3 linked regions of the Homo sapiens genome follow. The protein of the gene in region 1 purifies or fractionates together with the protein of each later gene. This does not show direct contact. Each region holds a gene or a part of one and is shown in the gene's direction. Other genes may lie near its edges.

Region 1 (3,644 bases):
CGGGGCCTCGCAGCGTGCCACGTCGGTCTCGGGGCTCTGGGGAGAGCGGCATCTAGAGGAGCTGGGGGTGCAGGAGGCGGATGTCTGAGCTTAGTGTCTTTATTCCTGATAGTGTTTGAGTGACTGCCTGGCCCTACTATGAGTCATCCTGTGAAATCGTCTCAGGACCCTGCCAGGTGCATCATTGTTGCCACTCAGCAGAGCCAGTAGGTGGGGGAGGCAGGATTCGAACCCAGGCCTTTCTGACCTGACTTTGCAATGCAATTCCTTTTTTTTTTTTAATTTAAATTTTATTTATTTATTTATTTTTGAGACAGGGTCTCGCTCTGTCATCCAAGCTGGAGTGCAGTGGTGCCATCATAGCTCACTTCATCCTCAATCTCCTGGGCTCAATTAATCCTCCTACCTCAGCCTATCAAGTAGCTGGGACTACAGGCATATGCCATCATGCCTGGCTATATATATATTTTTAAAATTGTGTACAGACAAGGTCTCACTATGTTGCCCAGACTGGTCTTGAACTCCTGGGCTTAAGTGATCCTCCATCTCGGCCTCCCAAAGTGCTGGTGCTGGGATTACAGGTGTGAGCCACCACCCTTGGCCTCCATCTTTGCTTTTTTTTTTTTTTTCTTTTTTTTTTTTTGAGACAGAGTCTCATTCTACACACCCAGGCTGGAGTGCAGTGGCGCGATCTTGGTTCATTGCAACCCCTGCCTCCTGGGTTCAAGCGATTCTCCCACCTCAGCCTCCCGAGCAGCTGGGACTACAGGTGTGCACCACCACACCTGGCTAATTTTTTTGTATTTTTAGTAGAGACGGGGTTTTGCAGTATTGGCCAGGCTGGTCTTGAACTCCTGACCTCAGGTGATTCACCTGCCTCAGCCTCCCGAAGTTCTGGGATTACAAGGCATAAGTCACCACGCCTGGCAAGGCAGATGCTTTCTGGGTCAGTAAGTACCATGTGAAGAAACCCCAGAGACTTGGAAGTATGTCAGAGAGCAGTCGGTTCAGAGAGCAGTCGTTTCAGAGAGCAGTCGGTTCAGAGGGTCCAGGGCACAATGGGAGGTGGGAGGGAGTAGGGAAGATGGGGCAGACAAGGAAGGTGGGCAACAGTGCCGAGGGGTTTCACCCGGGAGAGGGAGCAGCCTCCCTGGGCATCCCAGATGGACTTCAGGGCACAGGATGGAGGAGACAGGAGAGGTCGGCTCAGGAGGGGGACCACAGACTCCTGGGAGGTGATGGTCCTTGGGACTAGGAGCAGGACCCATCCCAGAGCGGGGAGGAGGTGGAACAACAGGCCTGGGAGAGCTCCACACCAGACAGTGTCCAGGGCCCATGGCATTTCCAGAGCCAAGCACAACATGAATTTATGCTGAATTGTGCTGTGGAGTGAACGGTGTTCTTGTCCGTTCCTAGTATTTAAGGAATAAGAATTCGTTAACTTGAGATGAATTTGAAAATCTTGGCCAATAAATCTGATCTTGAAAAATTACCCAAAATGGGTTTGGGCATGGTGGCTCACTCCTGTAATCCCAGCAGTTTGGGAGGCCAAGGTGTGCGGATCATCTAAGGTCAGGAGTTGGAAACCAGTCTGGCCAACATGGTAAAACTCTGTTTCTACCAAAAACATACAGAAATTAGCGGGGCGTGGGAGCAGGCACCTGTAGTCCCAGCTACTCAGGAGGCTGAGGCAGGAGAATTGCTCTTTACCCGGGAGGCAGAGGTTGCAGTGAGCCAGATCACACCACTGCACTCCAGCCTGGGTGACAGAGTGAGACTCTCAAAAAGAAAAGCAAAGAAAAGAAAAATTACCCCAAATGGGCCGGGCGTGGCGGCTCACGCCTGTAATCCCAGCACTTTGCCAGGGAGGCCAGAACACGCGAAGAGCCCTGAATAGGTGGGGTCTGTACCTGGAGTTGACTGAGCGTGTGAAGCCCCCTGGCCTTTGTCCATGTGGCGAGCCTTTAAAGTAAAAATCAAAATGGCCTCGGCCGGGCGCCGTGGCTCACGCCTGTAATCCCAGCACTTTGGGAGGCCGAGGCGGGTGGATCATAAGGTCAGGAGATCGAGACCATCCTGGCTAACACGGTGAAACCCGTCTCTACTAAAAATACAAAAAATTAGCTGGGCGTGGTGGTGGGCGCCTGTAGTCCCAGCTGCTTAGGAGGCTGAGGCAGGAGAATGGCATGAACCCGGGAGGCGGATCTTGCAGTGAGCCGAGATCGCGCCACTGGCCGCTGCACTCCAGCATGGGTGACAGAGTGAGACTCGGTCTCAAAAAAAAAAAAAAAAAAGTAAAAAGAAAAAAGAAAAAAAATTACCCAAAAGGTAGTGAAGGCCTTGAGCCTCAGTACTACCAGGGACTGGGTGGGGGAGAAAGTGGAGGCAGGGCTTAGATGAGTGAGCTGGTGTCTCTGTGAGTCCTTAGCTGGTGGGGTGGGTTGCGGGTACATGAAGTCATGCTCCAGCCTAAGGGGCACGTGGGCACGTGTCATTGTCCCCAGAATAGTTAGCATTCACCTTGTGCCTTTGCTGAGAGCCATGCACTGAGCCCATCCTCCCTGCCATAATCTGCTGCGATTGCAGCCTTGATCATTCCCATTTCCCAGATGAGGCTGTGGGAGCTCAGGGGGAGCTGAGTCTCTCGCAAACACCGGTGCTTGACCTTGGCCCTGGAGCCATGCAGAGTAGAGATAAGGGCGCCCCTTGTAAATCTCCCCTCTCCCGCAGAAGGCATGGCAGGAAGTGGCCGGGTCTGCTCGGGAGCAGCCGAGCTGGAGGCTCACACCCTGGAGTCCCCCGGCCATGCAGCCAGCTTGGCGCCACCCTCCCTCTCGACCTCCTCCCACTGCAGACCTGTTAGTGTTGGGTTGAGAAGCGCAGGATCAAACCCAGGACTTTCAAATGGCAGAGCAGATTGCTAGAAGCCTCTGTATTTCCTGTCTGGTGGAGTCACCAGGCCCTGGATCGGCCGCTTTGATTCTCAGCTCGAGCCACTGCGAGGCTCCGTGCGTGGGGAGCGGGGTGGTTATTCATGCTCTGACCCAGGCATCCTGGAGAACCAGGACGGGCGACTGCTTTGAGAACCAGACGGGCGACTTTTCAGAATCTCCCTGCTTTAGAAATTTGACGCAAAATGCATGTAAAATTTGGGCTTTCCCACTTTTTTTTTTTAAAAATGGTCTCATTCTGTCTCCCAGACCGGAGTGCAGTGGCATGATCACAGCTCACTGCAGCCTCGACCTTCTCTGGCTCAGGTGATCCTCCCACCTCAGCCTCCCGAGTAGCTGGGACTATAGGCACATGCGACCATGCCCGGCTAGTTTTTTTTTTTTTTTTTTTTTGAGACAGAGTCTCACTCTGTCACCCAGGCTTGAGTACAATGGCATGATCTCAGCTCACTGCAACCTCTGCCTCCTGGATTCAAGCGATTCTCCTGTCTCAGCCTCCAGAGTAGCTGGGATTACAGGTGCCCACCACCATACTCGGCTAATTTTTTTTTTGTATTTTTAGTAGAGACGGGGTTTCACCATGTTGGCCAGGCTGGTCTCGAACTCCTGACCTCAGGTGATCCGCCCACCTCGGCCTCCCAAAGTGGTGGGATTACAGGCGTAAGCCACTGTGCCCGGCCGCCTGGCTAGTTT
Region 2 (3,644 bases), on another chromosome or scaffold:
ACCGGTCAGTAGAGCTGAGGCCGAGGATCCCTGGCCTCAGATTGCATCCCCTCCATGCCACCGCCCTTCTCTTCAGGGCGCGGTGAGGGAAGGGCGTGTGGGGGTCCCTCTGGGGAGAAGGTGTTTTCACCTTCACACTCACCCTCACTCCTCCTGTCCTGGAACTTGGGTGGGTTTGACCTTTTGTGGATGAGGTGAGGGCTGAGAGGTGGATTACTACCTGAGACAATCAAAATCAATTTTCTTTCTTCTGAAAAGGACTCAGGGTGTTTGAGAAAAGTACTGGGGAGAGGCAGCTGCCACCGGGGCTCCCCACTCGGGATGTGTTGGGTGTTTTGCGAGACCCCCCACAGGGAGCTCAGGTGCTGTGGGCAGTTCCTGGGCTTTGTCGAGGGCCTCCCGAAGGCAGCACTGTGGCCACCGTGGGACACATGCAGCCTGTCTCATCTCTAGGAGCTGCCAGGTGAGGGGTCCTGCGACAGGCACCTGTGCAAAGATATCTACCATGGGCAGCAAGGAAGGTTCCAGAAAGTACCGGAGGGAGAGTTGTGTTGGGGCTTGGGGGCTTTCTAGAGCAGAGGCTGTGAGAGGAAGTGAGCTGGGTCCCAGCACCAGGCAGCCTTTAGGCAGCTGTGATTGGAACAGCACTGTGGGCAGAGGGCAACAGCGTAGGACGTGTGTGGAAGTGGGGAGGTGCCGGAAGATTCAGAGACACAGGGTGGTGAAGGCGAGCCTGGAGAAGTGGGCTGGGGGCATGCTGGGAGGGGGCGGTGACGCTTGAGTCTCTAGGGCACCGGGGGCCTGAGCAAGGTTAATACCTGAGTAGAGAGTTGAGGCAGTCTCTTTTTAGAAATTAGAAGTTAACTATTGCTGTGTAATGGGGTCACCCCAAAACTTCGCAACTTAAATTAACAAAACTTATTTCAGATAGTTTCTGAGGGTTGGGAATGTGGGAGCACTTTGTTGAGTGATCCTGGCTTGGGGTCTCTCAGAAGTTGTAGTCAGGATACCAGCCAAGCAGGGGCCACATCATTTGAAGGCTGGACTGGAGCTGGAGGAGCCACTCACAAGTTGGCTCCCTCTAGTGGCTGTTGGTGGGAGGCCTCAGTTCCTCACCACGTGGGCCTCTCCGTGAAGCTGCTTGAGGGTCCTCACAGCGTGGCGGCTGCCTACCCCAGAGCCCCTGACCCGAGACTGAGGGCAAGGAGGAAGGCCTGTGCCTTTTGTGAACTGGCCTTGGAGATGGCACACTGTCACTTCCATCACATTCTGTTTGCTAGAAGCAGGTCACTAAGTGTAGCCCATGCTCAAGGGGAGGGGAATTAGGTTCCAGTATGGAAGGGATGAGCATCAGAGATTTGTGGACACACTGGAAAACCCAGCATTGGCATCCCAGCGTGTGAGGGTGAAGAAAAGTGGGGAGACGGAGTCTCTGCCCAGGAGGTGACCAGGTGAGAGGCAGAGGCAGGAGAGGGGCTGGAGTGAGGACCCCCATGTCACCCAGAATGTGTGGGGGGCTCATCTGGAGGCTGGGGTGGAGCGACAGCTGGCCACATGGGCCCCCTTCCCGATAGTTTTTCCAGGCTGACTTGCTAATCCTTTTCATCCTCTGGGGCCCTGGGACCATCAGTGTGCCCATCTCTGAGATGGGGTGGTAGCGTACTCGTCTCTGGAAGCATTGTGGGTATTAGCAAGGTCGTGGCAGGCGTGGAGACGTAAAGGGGTTCAGGGATGTGCTCAGGGCCACCTGTGGCAGGCACAACGGTCCTGGCTGACCCCGCCACAGCACCAAGAGGGAGAGGGGAGAGCCTCGTGGGTGCTTGGTGCGCAGGGGGCAGTGTGGCCGTGGCCGCTGAGCAAAGCTCTGGGGAAGGGGGCGCCCAGCCCTTGGGGTGGTCTGTGCAGAGATGCCGTTGGGGTGAGTCCGTCTGTCAGGGCACCGCCGCCACGTCTGTGTGCTGTCCCTCTGGTGAGCATTGGTCATGAACTGGCGTGACCGTGGTGGAGCTGCACAGTCCCAGCTGCGGGGCCGGTGCCGTGCGACTTGATTTGGCCTGAGACCGTGTGGTCTTTGACGTAAATACCAACAATTGGCCCCCAGGAAAGTGTGTCCTTGCAGAACTTCTGGAAAAGGGGTGGTTCCAGTAAGACCCTGGCTTGGTGGAAGATGGGAAGGGCGCTTTGTAAACTCTTTCCGAGGAGTCAGGAGGCCGTGGCGTCTGGTGGAGAGACGGTCAGCCTCACGTGCCTTGGTTTCCTGTGCTGGGTGCTGCAGCACGGCAGGGTCTGGGTAAGAGGGGGCAGCAGCACGAGAGTCAGGCCCCGGCTGCCGCCCGCCCTCACGTGCCCCGTCCCCCAGGCACGGGCGAGAGCGGGAAGAGCACGTTCATCAAGCAGATGCGCATCATCCACGGCGCCGGCTACTCGGAGGAGGACAAGCGCGGCTTCACCAAGCTCGTCTACCAGAACATCTTCACCGCCATGCAGGCCATGATCCGGGCCATGGAGACGCTCAAGATCCTCTACAAGTACGAGCAGAACAAGGTGAGCCCGCGGGCGCCTGGGGAGGGGAGCGCCTGGGCAGCTGTGGGCTTGGTGGTGAGCATGGTGGCCGCGCTGCCAGGGTGGGGCCATGCCGGGGGTCCCGGCCGGCCCAGGCTACCCCTGGTCATCCATCCGTTCCTGTCATGGACATGGAAACAGCAACCGCTGACTTCCTGGGGGCCAACTGGAGAGTTGTGATGGGCATTGCGTGGCCAAGCCCCACAGCCTCCCTCCCAAGTAGCTGTGGGCGCCCACATCCTGTGGGTGGGGAAGCTGAGGCCCTGGGGAAGCTGAGGCCCTGTGAGGTGAGCCACTCGCCCAGGTCGCCTTGGGAGTAAGCAGCGTGAGCTCCTGGTTCCGGCCCCTTCCCCAGGCTGAGCAGCCTACCAGGCACCTCGTTTCGGCCCTGACACTCACCCATGGGGCTGTACTTCTCACCTTCTCACACTGTTTTTTTGTTTTGTTTTGTTTTGTTTTGTTTTGAAAACAGGGTCTCGCTCTGTCGCCCAGGCTGGAGTGCAGTGGAATGGTCAAGGCTCATCACAGCCTGGACCTTCTGGGCTCAGGTGATCCCACCACAGCCTCCCGGGTAGCTGGGACTGCAGGTGCATCACCACGCCTAGCTAATTTTTGTATTTTTTGTAGAGATGGAATTTCACCATGTTGCCCAGGCTGGTCTTGAACTCCTGGGCTCAAGCAGTCCTCCCGCTTTGGCCTCCCAAAGTGCTGGGATTACAGGTATGAGCCACCATGCCTGGCCTCCGCCCTGGTTTTTTTTCTTTTTTTTTTGATAAAGTAGAGGTCATTTGATGCCCTGTTTTTAAATCACAGCTTTATTGAGTTATAATTCACATTCTATGCACTTCACTTGCTTAAAGTGTATAATTTGGTGGTTTTCGATATGTTTGCATAGTCGTGCAGCCATCACCGCTGTCGGATTCCAGATTTCATTTTCTCAAAGGAAGCCCCTTCCCCATCGGCCGTCACTCCCACCCCCTCCTCCAGCCCCGGCACCCACACATCCCCTTCCTGCCTCTGTGGATCGGTCTGTCCTGAACATTTCATAGAAATGGGATTGCACGCCATGTGGCCTTTTGTGT
Region 3 (4,026 bases), on another chromosome or scaffold:
TGACGCATACCTGTAGCACTTCGGGAGGATCCTTTGAGCCCAGGAAGTCGAGGCTTCAGTGAGCCATGACTGCACCACTGCACTCTGGCCCAGGCAACAGTGAGATCCTGTCCTAGAAAGAAAAGAGAAAAAAAGAAAAATGCGATTTGGAAATGTGGAGGTCGAGGTTGACAGCGACACCGAGGTCGAAGCCAGTTGCCCCTGGAGAGCGAGAGACTGGGCTGGGCCGACTCCCACCTCTGTCGCGAGAGGCCTACGGGCAGGGGCAGGTGGGCAGGGGGACTGTGCTGGGTCTCTGGCCGCGTCTGGACGGCAGGCGACACTTTCTCCACAAAAAGCGTCAAGAAACCACGACACTTGGTTTCTGGACTTTTCCGCGGAACAGTAACCAGAACAATCGCCATGAAGGTTCGTTTCTGTCATGGCTCAGTGCAGCCTGGACGCCCTGGACCAGCCCCTCCTGCGCCTGGGCCACGGCCGCTGCCTTCAGGGCATCACTGGTGGGCGGCACAACCATCCTCCCTTTGGGGGGTTAATTTCATTTCTTTCCTCCCTTCTTTAATGGTGAATGGAGGAGCACCGAGCACCACTGCAGTCTCAGTTTCAGATCCCAGCGCCTCGTCCCTGCCCACTGCCCTCGGCCCCGCCCGCCTGCATTGGCAGTGCCCTGGCCCCACCCACCCGTGTCAGCACCGCCCACCGCCCTGGCACCACCCACCGAGTTCTCGCCCATGAGGAAGGGGGACCCTGAGTGGAGGTTTCAAACCTTAGGGGCCGTCCCTGCCGTGCAGGGCTCTGTGAGGCCTCTTGCCACATAGGCTTGTGTCTGCAGGACTGTGCGGCATTTACTCCCATCTCAAATACCCCATACAGGGCAGACTGCCCCTGCCCCACCTGCCCACCCACTCCCCAGCCTCTTCCGCACGCCTCCTCTGGAAGGGGAACGGGCCACAGAGTGAAATGGGGCCTTCCAGCTCCAGTGCGGGGACTTGGAAGGCCTGGCCCGGTGTGGGGGCCCCTCTGCCCTGCAGGCCACTCTGTGCAGGCCTATCCTCAGGTGTGCCCTCGCCCAAGGCCTGCACGCACCATGGCTTCTGTGGTACCAGTGATAACACCATGCCGGGCACCTCCTGCAGTCACCACCCCTGGGCTGCTAGGGCAGAGACAGCTGCGGTGGCCCGGTGCACCTGCCTGGCCTCAGGATGGCCGAGGCGCCTGGCAAGGCTGCAGGGTCCCAGGGGCACCTGTCCGTACTGCTGGGCGCCTGAGTTCCTCCTGCTGGGCACTGTCAGGGCAGTGCGCCTCAGGCTGTGCTTGTCTCTGCAGAAATGTCCTGGCCCCGTACGCGGTGCCCTCGGAGCTGGTGCTGGTGGAGGAGATCCCGCGGAACCAGATGGGCAAGATTGACAAGAAGGCGCTCATCAGGCACTTCCACCCCTCATGACCCGGCAGACTGGGACTGCGGGTCTGGTGGGGAGCAGCAGACGTCCCCTTCACACCGAGAACCACGGGGGCCCGTCCAAGACCTGGCCTCCCTTAAACCTGAACCCCCCAAATCAGGTCACGTAGAATCAAGAACTGTTTGGGATGAAATCACCATGTGGGGTCCCCAGCCTCGGGCCAGTTGTTGCAGCTCAAGGAGACCGTCCCTGGTGTCACCTCTGCCTGGTCACCGCCGACCTCATCTGTGCAGCGCGGTGCAGCCAGCCCCTGGCCCCACGTGCTGAGGCACCTCCCGCCCCACAGTGCCCTGCAGTTGCCAGGCTCTCCAGGGCAGGTCCCAGAGGTTTCCCACAAAAAACAAAGACTCCACTGGAGGAAACAAGCCCCTGTCCCACGCCGTCTGCACGTGCCTGTGCCTCACCCAGAGCCAGTGTCTCCCGGCCCACATAGGAGGTCTGGGCAGCCACCCAGGGGGCCCTCCTGGGAGGAGCTGAGGGTTCACAAGCCTCCCAGAACCAGCCCTGTCCCATGGGTTCCGTGCATTTCCTGGTGCTGCTCTTGGAGGAGAGCAGCTCCCACTGTGGGGACACCTGCCACCCTGCACACTACTGTGTGTCCATCAGCATGTGTCACAGAAAGTGCGTGGACGGATGGCCCCGGAGCTGCTCTGCCGTGACCCTGCCTCACCCCCCAGCGCAGGGACTTTCCAGGTCATCTCCACACCAGCCCCTCAGCCGGTGAACCCTCTCTCCCATCACCGTCTCCACCCAGACCCCCACCTGCCCCATGGCCCCCATTTCATGTCTGTGGCTCACCAGCTTTTCCCCAGACCCAGCTCCGGAGCCCACAGGCGTGGCCGATGCAGAAACCTCAGGAAGGTGTGTTGTGAATGTTGGGTGCACCCACGTTGCATTTACTTAGCGGGGCCAATTCAGATGCACAGGGGCCACATGCAGAATCCAGAAGTTTCTGGACAATTTTCAGAAGAATAGGCTGCCTCCTCCCCACAGCCTGGGGGAAGTAACAGTCATCGCCCAGCAGTGTCTGGCCTGAACTTACCCAGAACATTCTGCCCCCGGAATGCACGTCTGAAAGAGTGGCCAGAAACGAGTGTGCCGGGCAGGAGGCCAGCCCCATCTCAGGCTCACGTGCCTCTGACAGGAGACCAGCCCCATCTCAGGCTCACATGCCTCGCGGACAGTTGGACGTGGCCTGGGGCCCCTGCTCACTTGAGCATGTCGCCCACCAAGCTTGTCTGAGGCCACAGAGCAGCGTCCCAGCCCTGTTTTCCAGGACTGGTGGGTGCCCCAGTCCACGGCCCTGCCCCACCCGAACTCCTGCCTCACGGTGTGGCCTTGTGCATCCCCATGGCCTGACCCCGGGAACAGTCAGAGGAAGGGGTCCCGCCCTCCCGCCAGAGGCCTGGACCCAAGGGAACGGCAGTCAGAGACTACAGTCCAGACGTTTGTGTCTAGGCCTTGCTGGTAGCTAAGGAAATGCCTTCTGTTGGGAAAAGGTCAAATTTAACATAGCAAAATTTTTACTTAATTCCACTAATTTTACATTTGCATCTCTCTCCTTTAATCCTGAAACTTTTGATTCCTAAAAAGCTTACATAATCATTTGCTTTATCCGATAGTATACATCAGTATATCATGCTTTCGAAATAATGAGTGTAACTTTCTGCTGACAATACTACAAACTACAGAAAGCCTGGAGCTCATTGACCAGAAACTGCAGAGAGCCTGGAGCTCGTTGACCACAAACTACAGAAAGCCTGGAGCTCGTTGACCAGCCGGTTGACCAGAATACGGTGCTCCAAGGACATGCGGTTGAATGCCGTGTTCTAAAGTCACGAGTGACTCTCCAGCTGGTCCCTGTGCCAGGCTGGTCGGCCTTCGTGCACACAGTCCGCCAGTGCCCAGCCAGGCCCCTGGTTCCCCTCTGCTCCACCAGCCGAGAACAAGCCCGTCCTGGAGGGAACTCATCCTCTCCTCCCTCCCCATTAAAGCCCAGTTTATTCCCCATCTTGGCCTCTGGTGCTGACCTGGCCTCTGGAGACACAGGCCGGGGGGTGCTGTTTGCGAACTCACCGTGACTGAGCTCCATGAGGATACCACAGTCCCACGTGGCTGGCAGCGCCCACCCCACACACCCTGCCCCTTGCTGGGCGGCCCCATGCCACAAAAGTTAGACCCAGGAGCAGGTGCCCTGGGAGCAGGCTGCCACCAGCTGGGTCAGAAGCCCCTCTACATGCCTGGTGCTTTTGACCTCCTAGGGAGGCTGGCTTGAATCTGGAAAGTCACCAGTTCTGACCCCAGCCAGACACAGGGGTGCTGCCAGGAGCTGCTCCCAGGCGGGTGGCCCAGCTTCTCTCAGGCACCAGGGGATGGCAGGACTCCTGGTGACCAGCTGGTCCCCAAAGCCGTGGCACCGCGCCTGCTGCTGCCAGCAAAGTCCCACACACAGCCTGTGGCAGGTGCCGCCCCATTCTTTCTGCCCCTCCCTCATCAGGGGCCAGGGTGAAGCCCCTGCCGCCCTCTGCCTTCCCTCCACCTGCGGCTTCCCTGGCAGGGAGACCAT

Evidence for each region.
Region 2: the proteins of FBXL18 (region 1) and GNA11 purify together in Homo sapiens (affinity purification with mass spectrometry, with the first as the bait; one large-scale study listed by BioGRID). This does not show direct contact.
Region 3: the proteins of FBXL18 (region 1) and ACSF3 purify together in Homo sapiens (affinity purification with western blotting, with the first as the bait; one study listed by BioGRID). This does not show direct contact.

The regions. Positions count from the first base shown.
Region 1 is NC_000007.14:5,496,731-5,500,374, reverse strand, and holds part of FBXL18 (F-box/LRR-repeat protein 18), read left to right. Parts: intron 1-3,644. UniProt on the Homo sapiens protein: Substrate-recognition component of the SCF (SKP1-CUL1-F-box protein)-type E3 ubiquitin ligase complex.
Region 2 is NC_000019.10:3,107,790-3,111,433, forward strand, and holds part of GNA11 (guanine nucleotide-binding protein subunit alpha-11), read left to right. Parts: intron 1-2,359; coding exon 2,360-2,544; intron 2,545-3,644. UniProt on the Homo sapiens protein: Guanine nucleotide-binding proteins (G proteins) function as transducers downstream of G protein-coupled receptors (GPCRs) in numerous signaling cascades.
Region 3 is NC_000016.10:89,152,764-89,156,789, forward strand, and holds the end of ACSF3 (malonate--CoA ligase ACSF3, mitochondrial isoform 1 precursor), read left to right. Parts: intron 1-1,326; coding exon 1,327-1,444; 3' UTR 1,445-3,470; downstream 3,471-4,026. UniProt on the Homo sapiens protein: Catalyzes the initial reaction in intramitochondrial fatty acid synthesis, by activating malonate and methylmalonate, but not acetate, into their respective CoA thioester. May have some preference toward very-long-chain substrates.